Linked DNA regions of Homo sapiens. The protein of the gene in region 1 interacts with the protein of each later gene in a pairwise test. Each region holds a gene or a part of one and is shown on either strand. Other genes may lie near its edges.

Region 1 (4,661 bases):
TCATCTAATCGACTGAAGGCCTGAATAGAACAAAAAGACTAACCTTTTCCAAGCTAGAGTAAGTTCTGCAGCTGGTGGCCTTTGGACTTGAACTGCAACAGCAGCACTTTCCTGGGGCTCCAGCCTGACAATTCACCCTGAAGAATTTGGACTTGCCAACCTCCATCATCACATGAGCCAATTTCTTAAAATAAGTCTCCCTTGGCAGGGCGTGGTGGTTCACGCCTGTAATCCCAGCACTTTGGGAGGACAAGGCGGGCAGATCACTTGAGGTCAAGAGTTCGAGACCAGCCTGGCCAACATGGTGGAACCCCATCTCTACTAAAAATACAAAAATTAGCTGGGCGTGAGGCTGGGTGTGGTGGCTCATGCCTGTAATCCCAGCACTTTGGGAGGCCGAGGCAGGCAGATCACAATGTCAGGAGATCGAGACCATCCTGGCTAACATGGTGAAACCCTGTCTCTACTAAAAATACAAAAAAAAAAAAAAAAAAAAAATTAGCCGGGCATGGTGGCAGGCGCCTGTAGTCCAGGAGACTGAGTCAGGAGAATGGCGTGAACCCGGGAGGCGGAGCTTGCAGTGAGCCGAGATTGCACCACTGCACTCCAGCCTGGGCGACAGAGCGAGATTCTGTCTCAAAAAAAGGAAAAAATTAGCTGGGTGTGGTGGTGGGCACCTGTAATCCCCACTACTTGGGAGGCTGAGGCAGGAGAATCACTTGAGCCCGGGAGGCGAAGGTTGCAGTGAGCCGAGATTGCACCATTGCACTCCAGCCTGGGTGACAAGAGTGAAACTCCATCTCAAAAAAAAAACAACATTAAAAAAAAAATCTCTCTGTCTTCACACACACACACACACACACACACACACACTCTATTGGTTCTATTTCTCTAGAGAACACTGACTAATACACCTGCGCAAGTCCGTCTCATCTCTGAGCCTCAGTTTCCTCATCTGTAGTATTGGAGGGAGATTAATTAGCTGGTTCATGAGGGGTTGCCCATCTCTGTTATTCTCTCTTTTTTCAAAGACTCTGTAGGTTACAAAGAGAGGTTTAAGTAACTAGGCAAAGCAGAAAAGATTGCAAAACACTTTATTTCCATCACATATGTGCCAAGACTTGTGTTCTGTATCCAGGAGTGTGTTAGATACTAACATAGTGTTTCATTTACATGTGTGTGAAACCTGGGTGAAGAGCCAGGGTTTCTCTCCCCCACCCGCCTCAGAGTGCTTGTCCTGGAATCAGAGTGTAAAACCCCCTCTTGAAGCAGACACCAAAACTGAACTTCCACCCGGTCATGGGCCCTGCTCTTCCTGCTGTCAGCCTAGTCCAAAGAGCAATGAGGGAACTGCTTAGGAGGGGTCTGAGGGTGATGAGGGCCTGGGGGCCACACAGGGGTGGGTGCTGTCAGGTACAAGCCCATCCCTGCCTGCAAATAACCTTGCACAGGGTCCTTCCTCATTCTTTCCTCTTCCTTTTTGTTTATGAGATGAATGGCTCTTCTGCTGTGGCTTTAGGGGCAGTGGGGAGGCAGGGAGCTATTTGGGAACAGCCTGGAAAGCTGACCCTGCAGAATCTCCCAGAAGCCTTGGTGTGGCTATGGGTACCCAGGCTGTAGAAATCCCAGATGGTCCTCTTCCAGACCTCTCCCCAACTCCAGCTCACAGTTTCAGCTTCTTGGCACTGAAAACACTACTAGGGGAAGCAAGAGTCCACTTCAGGGCTTCTGCTTGGCCTCTACCCACCAGGGCTTGGACTCTGGACCTGCCCCAGCTAGGTTGGGGTTTCTGGGACTGCATGGCTCTGGCCCTGGAATCACGAAGCAGTGGGGAGAGCCCTTCTCTGCTCTGAGCATGCAAACCTTCTCACACCAGCCCACGGTTTCCAGGATTTCAGCCCCTAGGATGCCTGGGCCAGGACAGGAGAAGGAGGAGCAGAGGGTGGTGTTTCGGGCTCCAAGAAAGTCTTCGTGACCTTGGACTTGTCACTTGGCTTCCCTGAGCCTCAGTTTCCTTGTCTGAAAAAGTGGAGTGATAATCTCGATTTCTCAGGTCAACTGTGAGGTTGAAATAAGATATTGGTGGTGACAGGGCCTGTCACAGTGGGAGGCATCAGTGGTGGCTTCCTTTTCGACTGTGAAATCCTGGGCCAGCTGGTCAGCCACGCAGGGCAGCACCCAGTAGTGAGGGAGGAGAGGCCCGTGTGCTAAGGCTGCTTCCTGAGCCCAAAGAAGGGGCCAACCCAGCTCCGAAGACCAGGTTAGAAGTGGACTTGAGCAGAGGAGAGCAGAGGAAAGGCCAGGAGAGGGTGAGGGCTGGGATCCACAACCAGCCCTTGCCAAGTGGCTGCTGAGAGAGCAGGTTTGTGCTCCCTGCTCTGCAGACGTGCAAGCCCCAGGGCAGAGGAAGGGTTGTCGGGAGAGGACCCCAGCTTCCCTCTGGTGGGATGCTCCAGCTCGAGGGGCTGTGGAGGGGCAGTTTGGGCCGTGAGGCTGGGCTGGAGGGCACTGAGCTTAGAGGAAGACCCCTGCAGGCTGGAACCAGTGTGCGAGGCAAACAGGAGAGGGCTGGGGGACAGCTGGACAGGAGGTTCAGCAACCACAGCGGGGCCAAGGGACAGTGAGGGCAGGGGGCACTGGAGGAGGCTGGGAGAATCATGAGGCTGTGGACCTGGAGAGAGCGGCTGAGCTGGGTAACAGGAACCCGGGGTCTGGAACAGCTCCAGCTGCTCCCGGCAGCCATGTTGTCCCTGTGGGCCAGGGCCCAGGAGCCCCTCAGCCTGGTCCCAGCAGCCCAGGAGCCCTGGAGCTGAGCAGGAGGCACAATCCATGGGGCACAGGCGCTCATGCACGTGCAGGGTCCGGCTCCACCACGCCAGCTCGGCCTGCAGGGACTGGATCTCCTTCCGCAGGGCGAGGTTGTCTTTTTCCAGAGACTCGTGCTGCTGCAGAGAAGCAGATGGGCGGGGAGGGGAACCTCAGCCAGTGTCAGGGGCCCCGCATGAGCCTTAGCCCCTTCCAGGGTCCTCAACTTCAGGAGAAAGATGCCACCACCATTGGAATAGCCAAGTGGGGTCTCTTGGCCACTCTCTGGCCAGCCCTTCATAACCACCTACCAAGTCTCCCCTGTCCCACCCTCTGAAGGGGGCTCAGATCCGCCTGCTGTCATCCCACCACTAGTGCCCTGAGCCGGTGCCATTTCTCACCTGGGATATGCACGGGCCTCCAACCCGTGTGTCCCCCAAACCACCTATTCTCTTGCCCACAGGAGCCATTCAGCAACCATGTCATTAATTGCAGGTTAAAGCCCTTTAGAGGCACCCACCAAATTCCCTGTGGTAGAATTCCAGGCCTGTGTAGTGGCTGCAGCTCAGACCTCCGGTCTCCTCTCTCTCGCCTTCTTTCTTGCTCCCCTCCCTTCCTGACCCTCACATGAACTCTGCTTCCCGGCCACATTTCCTGTTTCCTCTGCCTGGACACCCTTCCGCCGCCCTTCTCTGTGCAAATCCCAACAGGGCCTTCCCGTGGCAACCTTGATGTCATTCTGTCCTAGATTGCTTATTGCCACTGCCCTTTTGAGGGCCCAGAACTCGCCCCTACGAGCACTGTGGGAGGATTCAGGGGATTGTTTTACAGGTTGACAGCATGAGTGTGTTCGATTCTGCATCCCTGAATCAGCATTTATTAAGTTCTGTTCTGCTGAACGCCGGTTCTGAGAACCCCTGAGACACAATCAATGTGCAGTTCTAAATAACCATTTATGATGACAGTAATGGTAAAAATGCAGAAAGAATTTTATATCCACATCTCACAGGGCTGAATAAATTGAACGACTTCCTTCAGTCCCCCACCCCCTTTTCTGGACACTTTGAAAGAAGAAGTTGCAAAGGTGTTTTGCATAAAAATGTGGTTTTGGCCCTGGACTCAAAGTTCTTTTTTTTGAGATGGAGTCTGGCTCTGTCGCCCAGGCTGGAGTGCAGTGGCTCGATCTCGGCTCACTGCAAGCTCAAGCTCCCAGGTTCACACCATTCTCCTGCCTCAGCCTCCTGAGTAGCTGGGACCACAGGCGCCCGCCACCACGCCTGGCTAATATTTTGTATTTTTAGTAGAGACGGGGTTTCACCATGTTAGCCAGGATGGTCTCGATCTCCTGACCTCGTGATCTGCCTGCCTCGGCCTCCCAAAGTTCTGGGATTACAGGCGTGAGCCACCGCGCCCGGCCCTGGACTCAGCCTGAAAGCCACCAGCCCCATTGCCACGCTGGTTTCTACATGTGGAATGATGAATTTTTTTTTTTTTTTTTTTTTGAGACAGAGTTTTGCTCTGTCGCCCAGGCTGGAGTGCAATGGCATAATCTCGGCTCACTGCAACCTCTGCCTCCCAGGTTCAAACGATTCTCCTGCCTCAGCCTCCCGAGTAGCTGGGACTACAGGTATGCACAACCATGCCCAGCTAATTTTTGTATTTTTACTAGAGATGGGGTTTCACCATGTTGGTCAGGCTGGTCTCGAACTCCTGACCTCGTGATCCGCCAGCCTTGGCCTCCCAAAGTGCTGGGATTGCAGGCGTGAGCCAATGTGCCTGGCCGGAATGATGGACATTTCTAAAATGTATCATTAGGCCACCCTTCACCTAAATTCTCCAAAGGCTTCAACTCACCT
Region 2 (4,897 bases), on another chromosome or scaffold:
AATGATTCTTAGCAAATTGTTAGTTCCTAGAAATCCGCAGTCTTTTCCTCCACCCCTCATTTTTCCTTGTTTAATGTTTAAGTTTCGAATTTTGCCAGAGATAGATGTCAAACTATTAGTCTGTAAAGTCTAGGAATTCTAATTCTTTCTTTTAATTTTGAATATTAAAAATAAAAACACTGGGGGAAAAAAGTTCTGTTTGAATCTCTAGTCTCTTGAGACTGCCCTTCTTCTCCATGTTTTTATAGAGGTTGTCAGAATAGTTCTGTGCTGACATCTGCAGGTTCTTTTGGTACCCTGGAATATAATTCACCAGAATGTGAAGGCATGGACTATTTTAAAATGACCTCTTCTGCTTGCACCTTAGTTCTCTCTTAGTGAGGTTTCCATACTTTCCAGCTTGAAAATCATTTGCTTTTAAGGGAGCAAAATGTTGCTGAGCAGTTTTGTTTTCTTTCTCATTAGAATACGCTATCTATCCTTGGATTTGAGAATTTTAAAATGAGCCTTTCTTACTATACTTTCCATATAGTAAGTATACTATGCACAACATGCACTAAGTCGGTGGTTGAGAAGTAGAACCACTCATGGTGTTATAATGTTAAAAGTTTTGGCAGTAGTAAATAACTCTAATCAGTATCTCACATGGGAAGAGCCTTGTATTTTAAGAATGAATTTATTCCTTGTAAGTTAAAAGTTGTGAAATTAAGAGTGTTTCACAAGGGGCTGAAGGTAACATAAATTAGTGAAGCTGAATGGGAGGGAGTAACAGATATGTGACCCAAAGAGTGAATGCCTAGCTTAGAAATATTCTAATTCAGAACAGTTTCAACACTGCATTGGCCCAACAAAACACTGGCCCAAACACTACTGCAAGTTTGTAGTCTTTGCATGTAAACAGCCTGCAAGAGGCAGAACTATGTAAATTTCACTGTGTTCTTCCCAACATCTAACATACTATAGGCACATGGATAGTTGATAAATAGGAAAACTTTAGTAAGCATTCATTAATCGCCTTGATGTAGAGAACTGTTCTGTACAAAATAAAGAAAAAAATAACTCCTGCCCTTGAGGAATATCTAATCTCATTTGGGGAGACAGCATTTATAAATTAAAGACTAGACTTCAGTTCAAGAACAGAATTCTGAGGAAGGGCGGGAGGAGGACTAGGAAGTCTGCAATAAGGAGATACGGCTTCCCCTATCCTCAAAGATAGTACTTGGGTTTAAGTAAGGAACAGGGGAAAGGGTGCTGGGTGGAGATAAAGGCGAGGTGGTGTGTTTCAACTTAAAGGAGGACTAGGAGTAGGAAATGAGAATGGGTGAGCCAAGGAGACTCACTTGATGGGAGAGGAAATTTCCTTGTATTAGTGAGAAATTAAGTCCATTGGGTAAAAACAGGGCTTTAAAAAATGGTTACATTAAATGTACCTCTCTTCCCCCAAGACACTGTACTGTTAGGCCACAGAAAATAGGAACCATACAGTAACTCTTTAGGTAAAGATGTGGAGTATATGGATCATGAAAGAACTATGAAACTTTAAATGGCAAAATTTTCTGAATTTCTTGGTCCTCTGACCTAGAGTCCTAGTGAATTTGAACACTGTTCTTCCATGTCTCTATACCAGAGTAATGATTCTTTTCAGTGCTCAAAATTACATATACTGCTGCCTAGAATTTAATTCAGTGCACAGCACTTAACACTCTTTTATTAATTTATGCCTCCTACTTGTTCTAAAATGAAGTGGTTTTACTACATAAAGACTAATAGAAATTGAATTTGTAGGGGAGGAAAAAAGCTGTCCTCTACCCTCTTAGGTTTGTGACCAAGGCCTGTGAATCAAACTGATAAAAGAGTAATGGCATAAATAGAACAGATTTAAACACACGTATGCACAGGAGTTTGCAAAAGAAATGTGACTGGAGGAGGTGGTTAGAATTTGGGGCTTATCTACCAACTTAACAAAATGATAAAGCGGGAAGAGGTTCTAGATCAGATTTTCTTTACTAGTTGGTCAGAGCTCCTTTTCATTTTTCTGTGAGGATTTATATTATGGTGCTGGAGGAATTGCTGCAGATTGAAGGTCAACATTCATGGCCATAAATAGGAGTGGCCAGATGAAGCCACCTGGTAGCCAGAGTGAAGCCCAGAAGGGCTTAGGGAAATACCTGCTTGTGTATGTGTGTGGTTTTTTTCCTCTACCTGGAGGACCTGGTAAATGAGATGAAGTATTGATACCTGGACTTAAGACATCTATCGCCTGTTCAACAGTTAGTCTATCATCTAATTGTTCAAAATCCTAAATTACTGTTGTCATTCTTAGATTATAATTCTCTTTCCTCAATTATAATCTGGAGATATAATACAACACTTAATAATTAGATGTTAGTAGCTTTAGGAGACAATCTGGAGAGATAAGAAATGGAAATAACACAGAACATGTTCCACGTTCCAAGGGAAGTTCTAGATGCTTTACATATAGATTCACAATTTTTATTTTTTTGAGACAGAGTCTTCACTCTGTCGCCCAGGCTGGAGTGCAGTGGTGCGATCTTGGCTCTCTGCAACTTCTGCCTCCCAGGTTCAAACGATTCTGCTGCCTCAGCCTCCCTAGTAGCTGGGATTACAGGCATATGCCACCACACCTGGCTGATTTTTTTAGTTTTAGTAGAGATGGGGTTTCACCATGTTGGCCAGGCTGGTCATGAACTCCTGACCTCAGGTGATCCACCCACTTTGGCCTCCCAAAGCACTGGGATTACAGGCGTGAGCCACCATGCCCAACCAAAATCACAATTTTTAGATGACTGAGGTAGAGCCCAGTTCACAGATAAAATCATACCATACCGCTTTATTCAGGTTTATTAGAATCTCAAACATTGTCTCATTTCTTAACAATGTTATTTTCTCTGCCTCTCTATTGAGAAATTTTGGCCCCAAGTGTGACCACATGGAGTCATCCTGAGCCCATCCTGTCAGTGACCAGCTGTACAGTGTGTGTGCTCTAAGTGCCTAAGGATGAAACCGACTTCTCAGTTTCTAAGGTCCCTACAGTAGTGTTCTTTCGGTGACCTTCATACTGACCAAAGTCATATATACAGTATTTTGTAGCTTTTCCTTTTTGGTGAAAGACAAAGAACACTACATTTAAATTATGTCCATTTCTGTTTGCCTGTTTAACCAATGTCATTTGATCCTGTTGTGAATTTATAGTCCAAGTGAATGATTCTCAATACTCCCAGTACAAAGACCTCCACTTACTGTCCAGTTTTCACGGAGCCCTACAAGAAAGTATATTCTTAGTATCCATTATTAGAGAACATATAATGACAAATATGTTACTAGGAACTGAGATATATGTATTTTTTATAAACTTATTTTTTATTTTTTTTGAGACTGAGTCTCACTCTATCGCCCAGGCTGGAGTGCAGTGGCGTGACCATGGCTCACTGCAACTTCCGCCTCCCAGGTTCAAGTGATTCTTGTGCCTCTGTCTCCTGAGTAGCTGGAATTACAGGCACCTGCTACCATGCCCAGCTGATTTTTGTATCTTTAGTAGAGATGGCATTTCACCATGTTGGCCAGGCTGGTCTTGAACTCCTGACCTCAGGTGATCTGCCCACCTCGAGTTATGTTTTAATGAATTGGTATTTTTATTAATCACATCTACACTGAAATTTGAAAGACATTTTATATATATATGCATAAAACTTTTTCAAAGACCACAACATGGTTTTTTTATATATTTACATTAATTCAGGGTGAGACCAATTTTAAGCAATAACTTGAGATATAAGGCATCTTAGAAACCTGTGTAAAGGCTTAAGAATATGACATAAAATGGGACAATGGTAAAATAAACCATCCCTGTTAATCCAGTGTTTAAGATGGACTTCTGGGGAGTTAGCAGCCTATTCGTTTACACAGCAGATTTTAGAAGTTACTTTTTTTTTTTTTTTTTGCTGGTTTTGTGTTTGGGTCCAACTCATGTCCAAATTATGGCCTTTTTGTGATACCTTCCACTGGCATATTCCCAAGGAATTTACTCCTTTTGATGACACTGCACCCAGAATGGAGGAACACAGCTACAAAATGAACTATAAAGAAGGGCTAGGCAGGCATGGTGGCTCACACCTATCATCCCAGCACTTTGAGAGGCCAAGGCAGAAGGATCACTTGACGCCAGGAGTTCACAACCAGCCTGGGCAATATGGCTGTCTCTACAAACAATATAAAAAATAACGTGGGCATGGTGGCACGTGCCTATAGTCGCAGGTACTCAGGAGGCTGAAGCCAGAGAATAGTTTGAACCCAGGAGTTCGAGGCTGCTGTGAGCCACAACTGGCCACTGTACTCCAGCCCAGGCGATGGACTGAGACCCTGGCTCTAGGAGAAAAAAGGTGGGTAGCTGCAGTAAATCACATTTTTTCTTTGACGGACCCAACAGAAGGCCCAGTTGTTGCTAGATCTCTTCCTGAGGATAGTGTCAGGGCTCATTCTATATTTTTAGAGCTTTGAGCCTTCAAATAACATTGAAACATGTAAAGGGGCTTTCTTTTCCTCATGTATGACTGTCATGTGTATATATGTGTCTGTGCATTGTGATTTGAGGGGTAGGAGACAGAGGGAGAGGGAGTGGTGGGTGGAAGGGCACTGTTAGATTTTAATACTTATAGCCTGAATAAATTATATTCTCTTTCTCCTTTTGATTTTGTTAATTTTGGAAGCACTTACATTCTATGGGCGCAGGTTCTAAACACATAGTAGACACTCAATATAGACTGGTTGGATGGTTAAGGGATGCTCTGATAGTTCTTTTGTGTATCTTGAGAACTAAGGTATAAAAGATTGATTTAAATATTTTTGAGAAACTGTGTTTTTTAAACATTTTATATTT
Region 3 (5,532 bases), on another chromosome or scaffold:
ACTCCAGGCACTGGGCAGGCAGTGGTGAACAAGATAAGCCTGGCCAGGCGCAGTGGCTCATGTCTGCAATCCCAACACTTTGGGAGGCCGAGGTGGGTGGCCTGAGGTCAGGGGTTCAAAACCAGCCTGGCTGGGCATGGTGACTCACCTGTAGTCCAGCTACTGGGGGGCTGAATTCCTTGAACCTGGGAGGCGGAGGTTGCAGTGAGCCAAGATTATGCCACTGCACTCCAGCCTGGGCAACAGAGTGAGACTCTGTCTCAAAAAAAAAAAAAGAAAAAGAAAAAGAAGCAAGGCCTGCCTTCATAAAACATACATTCTGGTTGGGGAAGACAGACAATAACCAGCACTCACATACATAAATGATGAAACACCCTACAGAAGTATTAAGATAATATAAGAACAAATTTCAAGGCTGGGTGCGGTGGCTTGCGCCTGTAATCCCATTACTTTGGGAGGCCAGCGTGGGTGGATTGCCTGAGTCCAGGAGTTTGAGACCAGTTTGGGCAACATGGCAAAACCCTGTCTCTACAAAAAAAAAAAAAAAAAAAAAAAAAAAAAAATACAAAAAATGAACCTAGCATGGTGGTGTGTGCTTATGGTCCCAGCTACTTGGGAGGCTAAGGTGGGAGAATGGCTGGAGTCCAGGAGAAGGAGGTTGCAGTGAGCCGAGATTGTGCCACTGCACTCCAGCCTGGGTGACAGAGTGAGACCCTGTCTCGAAAAAAAAAAAAAAATTCAGAGGTGAAGACTGCTTTAACCAGGGTGGTCAGGAAATGTCTCTCTGAGGCAGTGACATCCGGGCTGACGTGAAAGATGAGAAAGAGTCAGGCAAGTGAACAGAAGACCAGACAGCCAGTGCCAAGGGCCTGTCGCAGGAATGAGCTTGGTATGTTTGGGGGACAGAAAGAAGGGCACTGTGGCCGAAGAGCAGTGGATGAGGAGAGAGTGGCCAAAGAAGGTGTGTAAACAACCTGAGCTTTGTTTTGAGAAGAACATTGGCTGGTATAGAAAGAAAGACTTTGGAGGCAAAGTAGGGAGCCTCGGAGGCTGCTGCCATTGTCCGGGTAAGCTGATGGTGCCGAGACCAGGTGCCATGACTGGAGGTGGTGAGAAATGGTCCTATGCAGGAGACCTGGAGACACCGCTAGCTTGAGTCCTGAGGTGGGGAGGAAGGGAGAGGGAGGGATGGAGCCAGGCTCCAAGGTTTTGGCTTGAGCAGCTGAGATGGGGTGGCAAGGGAGCAGAGGTAGGGCTGACGATCAGGAGCGGGTTTTTGGGCCGAGTCCTCTGCAGTGCCCATCTGACACCCACTGGATGCGCAGAGTGGGCAGCTGGCTATGAGTCTGGAACTCAGAGAAGCTGTTCGCTCCGGAAATACAAACCTGGGGCTCATAGCCATATAAATGTCATTTAAAGCCACGGGACTGGATGAGATCATTAAGGCAGAAGGTCTAGGTCGAAAGAAGAGGGCCAGGACCACTACCTGTAAAATGAGCCAATGACACCTACACCCACGGGGCTCTCGCGAGGTGTCACGTGAACGCACCCAGCGAGCCCTGGAACCAGGCAGAGAATCGCGGCAGCCCCGGGGGCGGGGCTTCCAGGGGGCGGGGTCATACGGGGGCGGGGCCGAGGGACCAAGCGGCCGCTCCTGGCCGGAGGGCGGCCGGGTCGGTGACGTCACCGCATGACTGGGTTTTTATGAATGAAAGGAATCCTGTGAGTGAGTAATTCCGGGAAGCTCGCCTTACAACTCCGCGCGGCCTCGGCCCCCTGCGCCGCCCGCCCCACAACAAAACTCAGCGCAGCGCTCCCGGGCGCCCGGTTCAGAGCGACCTGCGGCTCAGAGCGGAGGGGAGACTGACCGGAGCGCGGATCGGGACAGCGGCCGGGACAGCGGCGAGACGCGCGTGTGTGAGCGCGCCGGACCAAGCGGGCCCAGAAGCGGGTGAGGAACGCGGGACCAGGAGGACGGTGCGCGGGACCCCAAGGCGGCAGGGTTTCTGCGTCCCGGGATGCGCCTGGGGTGGGCGCCCGGGCCCGATCCGTCGGGGCTCCCGGAGCTCCATCGCCCGGACGGCTCGGGGCGGGGAGAAGGGAGCGGCCGTCCCGGGGACGCCGAGGACGGGGCCGAGGCCAGCTCGGGGGAGTGGGGGTGGAGACGGGGCCCCTTCCCGGGGCGCGGGCGGGTAGGCGGCGGCGCCGGGAGGAAGGGGCAGCGCAGGCCGGCGATCTCCGCGTCCGCCCGGCGGGGGCGGGGGCGCTGTGCTCCTACGTGACTCGGTGGGAACAGGCCCTGGCCCGGCGCCCGCGGGCGGTGCGTGCGCGGTTTGTTTACGTCCGAGGGCGGGCGTGTGTTCCCTGGCGGGCGGCCTGGGTATCCTGCCCGGTGCGTGCGTGCGCTGTGTACCTCGGGGGCGTGTGTGCGTGTGTTGTGCTTGTGTGTGCGTGTCCGCGCGCGCGCTCCCTGGGGCCTGTACACCAGCAGTGTGTACCTCGGAGAGGGCGTGCCCTGGGCCGGCCACCGGAGTAAACGCGGAACAAGGACCCGAGCGAAGGAAGCGGACCCGTGCGTCTTCGCACGGGGTCTGGGAATTCTGGCCCGGGCCGCCCCAGTCCTACTACCCGGGGCTGTCCGTCCCCGGCTCTCCCCGGAGTTTCCCAGGGCCTCCGCCACGTGACCCCAGTGTTTGTCTCCCGCCCAGAGCCCGCGCCCGCAGCCACAGGGTGGGGCAAGGTATCAAAGACCCCACCCAGCTGAGCTAGGAGTGAGGGATGTGAGCCACCCCCGCTTGGCACCCCGGTGGATCTGGTAACAAAGTGAGTTGGAGCCCAGGTTCTTGTCCCCAGATTTTGGGGCTTCCTGGGGAGGGAAGAACCAAGGGACTCTCGTTCGTCCCCAGGGTTGCCCATCCCCTCAGTCCCATGAGAACAGGAAGGGCCAGAAAACCTTGACTGCAAGGGTGCGGCGCAGGGAGAGGACCACAGGCTTTTAGCTAGTCCGGGTTCTGGAGGCTGTACCTGCTAGGTCGTGGAGGATGGGGCGGAGCCGGTTTCCGCTCTCCTGGTAGTTTCAGTTCACAAGTGGGACTGGTGAGACTAGACTGACCTACAGCTGGACGCCGGAAGCTAGCTGAGGCTCTGAGCCAGCCGACAGACCCCGAGTGCCCTCACCCTGGGCCAGGCAGGGTCAGTAGGCATTGGGGATAGAACTCTGACTGCACGGAGGGTTAATGAGTGAGGGGTGGGGCCTGACCTAGCCGCCACCCACCCACTCACCCAATAGCCCTGCAGAAAGCACCTGTTTGTCGTAGCCGCCTGCAGGATGGGCTGGGGGCTAGAGATTCCTTGGTCTTAATCCACCTTCCCCCTCCACCCACCCACCCACGGTCTATGGAATTGTGGGAGGGGAGCAATTGAACTTGCTAGGGTGAGGAACCAATGATCTTTTGACTTTGGATCTTTGAACCCTGGGTGAGCTCTGCTACAGCAGCCCGGACCCTCAGTATTCCCATCTACCACTGGGAACTAGGTAACAGCCAGGATGGCAGGATGGTGGGTAGAAGGGGGAAGCTCTGGAAGTCTGTGCAGACAGCGTATTTTCCAGGTGAATTGTGGAAGAGAAAGCAGGGCTGACAGCCCCATGCCAGGAGCTGGGGGTACCCAAGAGTAGGTGGGGTTTGAGTCAGGAGGGTTGGGGCCAGGAGCACAGGAACCAGACAGGCCCACCCTCAAAGCTGGGCAGGAAACATTACAAAGTAGGGCCTGGGGTCAGGGGATGAGGGGAAGTGGCTGGTTGACTCAGTCCCAGATGGAAAGTTAGCACTGAGAAGTTTAACTTCCCATTGAATCACCCCTGGGCCCTGCATTGCCATTGGGCCCTTGTCCTGGACCAGATGCCAGGGATGAGATGAACAGACCAGATCCAGAGACTGCCCTCTGGGAGCTTATAGCTCAGCAGCGGACACAAACTTGAAAAAAGATCCACAGAAGTAAATGCAAAACACAGCTTAGATGGGTGATGTGAGGGAGAAGTCACTGTGGTTTGAAAGTACATAACAGCGCTCTGACTTAGCCAGGGCAATCAAGGAAGGCTTCCCTGGGGAGGTGACTAGTGTGCTGAGTCTGATAGAGTGGTGGTTGTCTGTGAAGCCCTTGAAGGCAGGAGCTGTGATTCACTTCAGGGTCTCCAGGGCCCAGCACAGAGCCTGGAACATAGTAGGTGCTTCTTGGATGTTTGCTGATTGAATGAATGAGCCCTGGATCCCTGCCCTCTAAGAGCTCCACAACACATGGAGAAAAAGGCCTGGGAACCCCAGAGAAACAGGAAGCCAGGGCAGGGGCTGGGGGAATCTTGAAGCAGTCTCCCAAAAGCGAGCAAATCCTTCAGGACTCAGGCAACTTCCTCCCTCACACACACAGGCATGCACTGCCCGCTTGTCCCTTTGGGAAACATTCAGGGATAGTAGAATTTGCTGTCTGTTCATTCATCTGTTAGCATACGATCCTGGGAGAGAGTGGACAGGAATACGGTTGAGGCCTGAGGACCCTACTGTGTTGGCTTGCGGGGAGGCTGGCATTGCAGGGTTTTGAAATGGGCCAAGCACGGACAGGCTCGTGGGTTTGTGTCAGTAGTGATTCCTCTGACAGCTCTTGGGGGAGGATCAATGATGGGGATTGGAGACGGAGGGCAAGGCAAGAGGCTGGTGAGCAGGCGGTTGTGGTCATGGTCCAGATGAAGGAGGAAGTGGTCTGTGGCTGTGCAGGTGGAGAAGAGGGCTAGTCTGATAGTCTGATAGTTTGTGTCTCATGCCCCCACCTCCAGGAAGCCTTCACCGCTTTCCTTTCCCTACCTCCATTCTGCTGGTGGTCTTGGAGCTCTGGGCCAGAATCTGAAACTCTAAACTCAGAGACAGTCATTGTTGGAAGGTACCTTAGGCTCGGAGGACGTTTGGCATAGTGGGAAAACTGAGGCCCAGAGAGAGGGAGTGCCGTACCTGAGGCCACACAGCGAGTGTGAGAGGGTACCTGAACTGGGGCTGGAACCCCAGGCCGTTGCTTCTCTGTGGTGCTTGGTTCTTCCAGCCTTGCTCCCCTTCCAGCAGGGAGGAGGCTCCAGCAGTGCTGACTGCCAAGAGCTAGGAAAACACATTTTTTCCCTGTCCTCACAGAGCGAGCAGAATGGCTCAGCAGCCAGAAAGGAGCCCATGCCAGCGGGTGGGCCTTCTACAGGATGTCTCTGGAGTGGACTGGTGGGGCCAGGGAGGGGGACGTTGGAGGGTTGTGGCTGCTGACTGGACAAGGCAGTTGTCAGTCCCTCAAGAGTCACCTCTCTCCTTATGCCTCCAGAAGACGTCATGAACCTGCAGACCCTGGAGGTCAGCTCTGCTGGCTTCCAAGGGAAGAAGCCAGGGAGAGGTGGTGGTGGCCGACATAGAAGACAGAGGACCCCTGGGTTCCAGTCCGCCACGGCTACCAAACAGTGGCTTGGTTGCCTCAGGTGCTGAACAGGGGATCGGATCAGCTACT
Region 4 (3,822 bases), on another chromosome or scaffold:
GTAAGGAGTCGCCTGGAGGTGGCCCCACGGCTGTGGTGGGCCTGGGCCATGGCCTTCGTGGTCTCATTGCCAGCTGCTTTCCTACCTGTCTCTTTCCCCAACCCCTGTTTGCTCCTTCCTTCTGTGTGTCCGTCCATCTCCGGCTGTGAAGATTTGAGCCAGCCCTGGGCCTCGACCTGTTGCTCAACTGCTCACTGTTGCTGTGCCGGGGTGGTGGCCACCCACTGGACCTGCTCTCCGTGACGCTGGCCTCGGGCTCCCGCTGTTTCTCCTTCCTGTCTGTGGCCTGGGGCTTCGTGTCAGATGTGGATATCCAGAGCGAGCGCTTCAGGGCCTTGGGCAGTGCCCGCTTCACACTGGGCACGGTGCTGGGCCTCGCCACACTGCACACCTACCGCGGACGCCTCTCCTACCTCCCCGCCACTGTGGAACCTGCCTCGCCCACCCCTGCCCATAGCCTGCCTCGTGCCAAGTCGGAGCTGACCCTAACCCCAGACCCAGCCCCGCCCATGGCCCACTCACCCCTGCATCGTTCTGTGTCTGACCTGCCTCTTCCCCTGCCCCAGCCTGCCCTGGCCTCTCCTGGCTCGCCAGAACCCCTGCCCATCCTGTCCCTCAACGGTGGGGGCCCAGAGCTGGCTGGGGACTGGGGTGGGGCTGGGGATGCTCCGCTGTCCCCGGACCCACTGCTGTCTTCACCTCCTGGCTCTCCCAAGGCAGCTCTACACTCACCCGTCTCCGAAGGGGCCCCCGTAATTCCCCCATCCTCTGGGCTCCCACTTCCCACCCCTGATGCCCGGGTAGGGGCCTCCACCTGCGGCCCGCCCGACCACCTGCTGCCTCCGCTGGGCACCCCGCTGCCCCCAGACTGGGTGACGCTGGAGGGGGACTTTGTGCTCATGTTGGCCATCTCGCCCAGCCACCTAGGCGCTGACCTGGTGGCAGCTCCGCATGCGCGCTTCGACGACGGCCTGGTGCACCTGTGCTGGGTGCGTAGCGGCATCTCGCGGGCTGCGCTGCTGCGCCTTTTCTTGGCCATGGAGCGTGGTAGCCACTTCAGCCTGGGCTGTCCGCAGCTGGGCTACGCCGCGGCCCGTGCCTTCCGCCTAGAGCCGCTCACACCACGCGGCGTGCTCACAGTGGACGGGGAGCAGGTGGAGTATGGGCCGCTACAGGCACAGATGCACCCTGGCATCGGTACACTGCTCACTGGGCCTCCTGGCTGCCCGGGGCGGGAGCCCTGAAACTAAACAAGCTTGGTACCCGCCGGGGGCGGGGCCTACATTCCAATGGGGCGGAGCCTGAGCTAGGGGGTGTGGCCTGGCTGCTAGAGTTGTGGTGGCAGGGGCCCTGGCCCCGTCTCAGGATTGCGCTCGCTTTCATGGGACCAGACGTGATGCTGGAAGGTGGGCGTCGTCACGGTTAAAGAGAAATGGGCTCGTCCCGAGGGTAGTGCCTGATCAATGAGGGCGGGGCCTGGCGTCTGATCTGGGGCCGCCCTTACGGGGCAGGGCTCAGTCCTGACGCTTGCCACCTGCTCCTACCCGGCCAGGATGGCTGAGGGCGGAGTCTATTTTACGCGTCGCCCAATGACAGGACCTGGAATGTACTGGCTGGGGTAGGCCTCAGTGAGTCGGCCGGTCAGGGCCCGCAGCCTCGCCCCATCCACTCCGGTGCCTCCATTTAGCTGGCCAATCAGCCCAGGAGGGGCAGGTTCCCCGGGGCCGGCGCTAGGATTTGCACTAATGTTCCTCTCCCCGCGGGTGGGGGCGGGGAAATTCATATCCCCTGTTCGTCTCATGCGCGTCCTCCGTCCCCAATCTAAAAAGCAATTGAAAAGGTCTATGCAATAAAGGCAGTCGCTTCATTCCTCTCAGACCTTCTGCCCTTCCTCCATCCGACAGCCCGCGGGAGGACTCAGACTCCAGCACTTCCAGCAGCGCCTGCCCTCTATGGACGACAGCCCGGAGCTGCCCACGGGCTGCAGCCAGTATGCCAGGGAGCTGCCCTCTTCTTCCACAACAGCTGGCTCTGGGGTTCTCAAGATTTATTCAGGATCGTGTTAACGGAGGCGGTGGGAGGATAGGGTCCCTGACGTGCCGGGGACACACACAGAGAACCCTCCCCGCCCCCGCAAGGGAGGGGGGAGGCTCGCTTTTTCTTAAAAATATAAATGTATTTATCTGCATTATCACGTCCCTGGGGCACCCAGCTGGCCGGCCCGTGGGCCACAGGGCAGGAAGGGAACAGGGCGTAAGTCTCAGCAAGGCGGAGGAGAGCTCCGCCAGGTGGGGATGTGGGGCAGCCTCACAGGGCCCCGTGCTGGGCCTGGTATCGGGACAGCACGGCGCGGTAGTGGGACAGCTCCTGGCGCACGGCCACAACTTCCTGCCGCAGCAGGGCGTTCTCCTTCTCCAGGAAGGCCGCCCGCACCGATATCTGGTTCTCCTTGAGCCGCCGGGCGTCACGGGACCGCTTGGCTGCCTCGTTGTTCTTGTACCGCCGGCTCCAGTATTTCTCATCCTGCAGGAGAAGAGGGGGAGAGCACTGAGGTCCAGAGGGACCCAGGTCCCAGCGAGAGAGGAAGGGAGCCCCAGCAGCGGGGCCTAAACCACACCAGGTCTCTGCTGGGATAGGTACCCAAGGGTCTGCCTTTCTAGGGCCCTGGTTGCTAAGGAGATTGGGCCCCTAGCAACAGTAAAGGCATGAGATAGACCCCCCACCCTCAAGCAACTCGCTTCAAGTCTCCACTCTGCAAAGCGGACCCCAGCCCTCCCCACATGATAAAGGCCTGCATGCAGTTAGCTCTTGCTTGCTAAGGATGCTTGTTCCCTAGCAACAAGGCCTTCATGGTCTGAGGGCTTCTCCCAATGAAGAGCACTGCCCTGCCCTGCACATTGCCTTTCCAGATCCTGGTTGCTAAGGAAAGCTTGGTGCCCTGGTGATGGGGTTTGGTGTCCCATAAAATCCTCGCAGAGCTGGGGCCTTCTGACCTGGTTGCCAAGGCAACCTCATCCATCCTTGGCAAACAAAAGTGAGGTCTAAGTGGTTTCAATGACTGTGGCCAGCCTCTGACCTGCTGGCCTTGAACTGAGGCCAGAGAATAGCCTCCTCCCCAGTAGGACCTGACTGAGAGAAGAGCTGTCTCTTAGGAAAGGGGACTATCCTGAGACCTCCCCAGAGGATTATACCTAAAGTCCTCCCATCCTGGAAGTTGGTTCCTAAGGAAGACTCCTCCTTAGTAACCAAGGACCACGGGGCTCAGAAAGATGCTCTCTACTCCACTATTTAATTAAAGCCCAGTTCCTGCTTGTGAGGGTAAATCCAGTCCCTAGCAACAGGGCCCTCTAGAAGGAGAAACCACTGGTGTAGATCTGACTTCCAGGCCAGTCCTAGGTGCTTCAAGTAGCTATGTGTTACGCAAGGGTATGGCAAAGTCTTGTTTGTTTTTGAGATGGAGTCTCGCTCTGTCGTTCAGGCTGGAATGCAGTGGCATGATCTCGGCTCATTGCAACCTCCACCTCCCAGGTTCAAGCGATTCTCCTGCCTCAGCCTCCCAAGTAGCTGGGATTATAGGTGCCCGCTACCATGTCCGGCTAATTTTTGTTCTTTTTTTTTTTTTTTGAGATGGAGTTCTCACTCTGTCGCCCAGGCTGGAGTGCAGTGGCGCGATCTCGGCTCACTGCAACCTCCGTCTCCTGGGTTCAAGCGATTTTCCTACATTAGCCTCCCAAGTAGCTGGGACTACAGATGAGTGCCACCATGCCCAGCTAATTTTTGTATTTTTTTGTAGAGACGGGGTTTCACCATGTTGGCCAGGAT

What was found.
Region 2: the proteins of BATF2 (region 1) and AKAP19 interact in a two-hybrid assay, tested with the Homo sapiens proteins (one large-scale study listed by BioGRID and IntAct).
Region 3: the proteins of BATF2 (region 1) and MAFF come close enough for resonance energy transfer, tested with the Homo sapiens proteins (one large-scale study listed by BioGRID and IntAct).
Region 4: the proteins of BATF2 (region 1) and DBP come close enough for resonance energy transfer, tested with the Homo sapiens proteins (one large-scale study listed by BioGRID and IntAct).

What each region holds. Positions count from the first base shown.
Region 1 is NC_000011.10:64,986,868-64,991,528, forward strand, and holds the end of BATF2 (basic leucine zipper transcriptional factor ATF-like 2), read right to left. Parts: intron 3,411-4,661; exon of another isoform or gene 3,276-3,410; coding exon of another isoform or gene 3,207-3,275; intron 2,946-3,206; coding exon 2,262-2,945; 3' UTR 1,078-2,261; downstream 1-1,077.
Region 2 is NC_000002.12:190,183,466-190,188,362, forward strand, and holds part of AKAP19 (small membrane A-kinase anchor protein), read left to right. Parts: intron 1-4,897.
Region 3 is NC_000022.11:38,200,262-38,205,793, forward strand, and holds the start of MAFF (transcription factor MafF), read left to right. Parts: upstream 1-1,732; 5' UTR 1,733-1,951; exon of another isoform or gene 1,952-1,977; intron 1,978-2,758; exon of another isoform or gene 2,759-2,823; intron 2,824-5,532. UniProt on the Homo sapiens protein: Since they lack a putative transactivation domain, the small Mafs behave as transcriptional repressors when they dimerize among themselves.
Region 4 is NC_000019.10:48,628,530-48,632,351, forward strand, and holds the end of DBP (D site-binding protein), read right to left. Parts: intron 2,524-3,822; coding exon 2,308-2,523; 3' UTR 1,501-2,307; downstream 1-1,500. Other genes in the region: SPHK2 (sphingosine kinase 2), read left to right, coding at 152-1,244. UniProt on the Homo sapiens protein: This transcriptional activator recognizes and binds to the sequence 5'-RTTAYGTAAY-3' found in the promoter of genes such as albumin, CYP2A4 and CYP2A5. It is not essential for circadian rhythm generation, but modulates important clock output genes.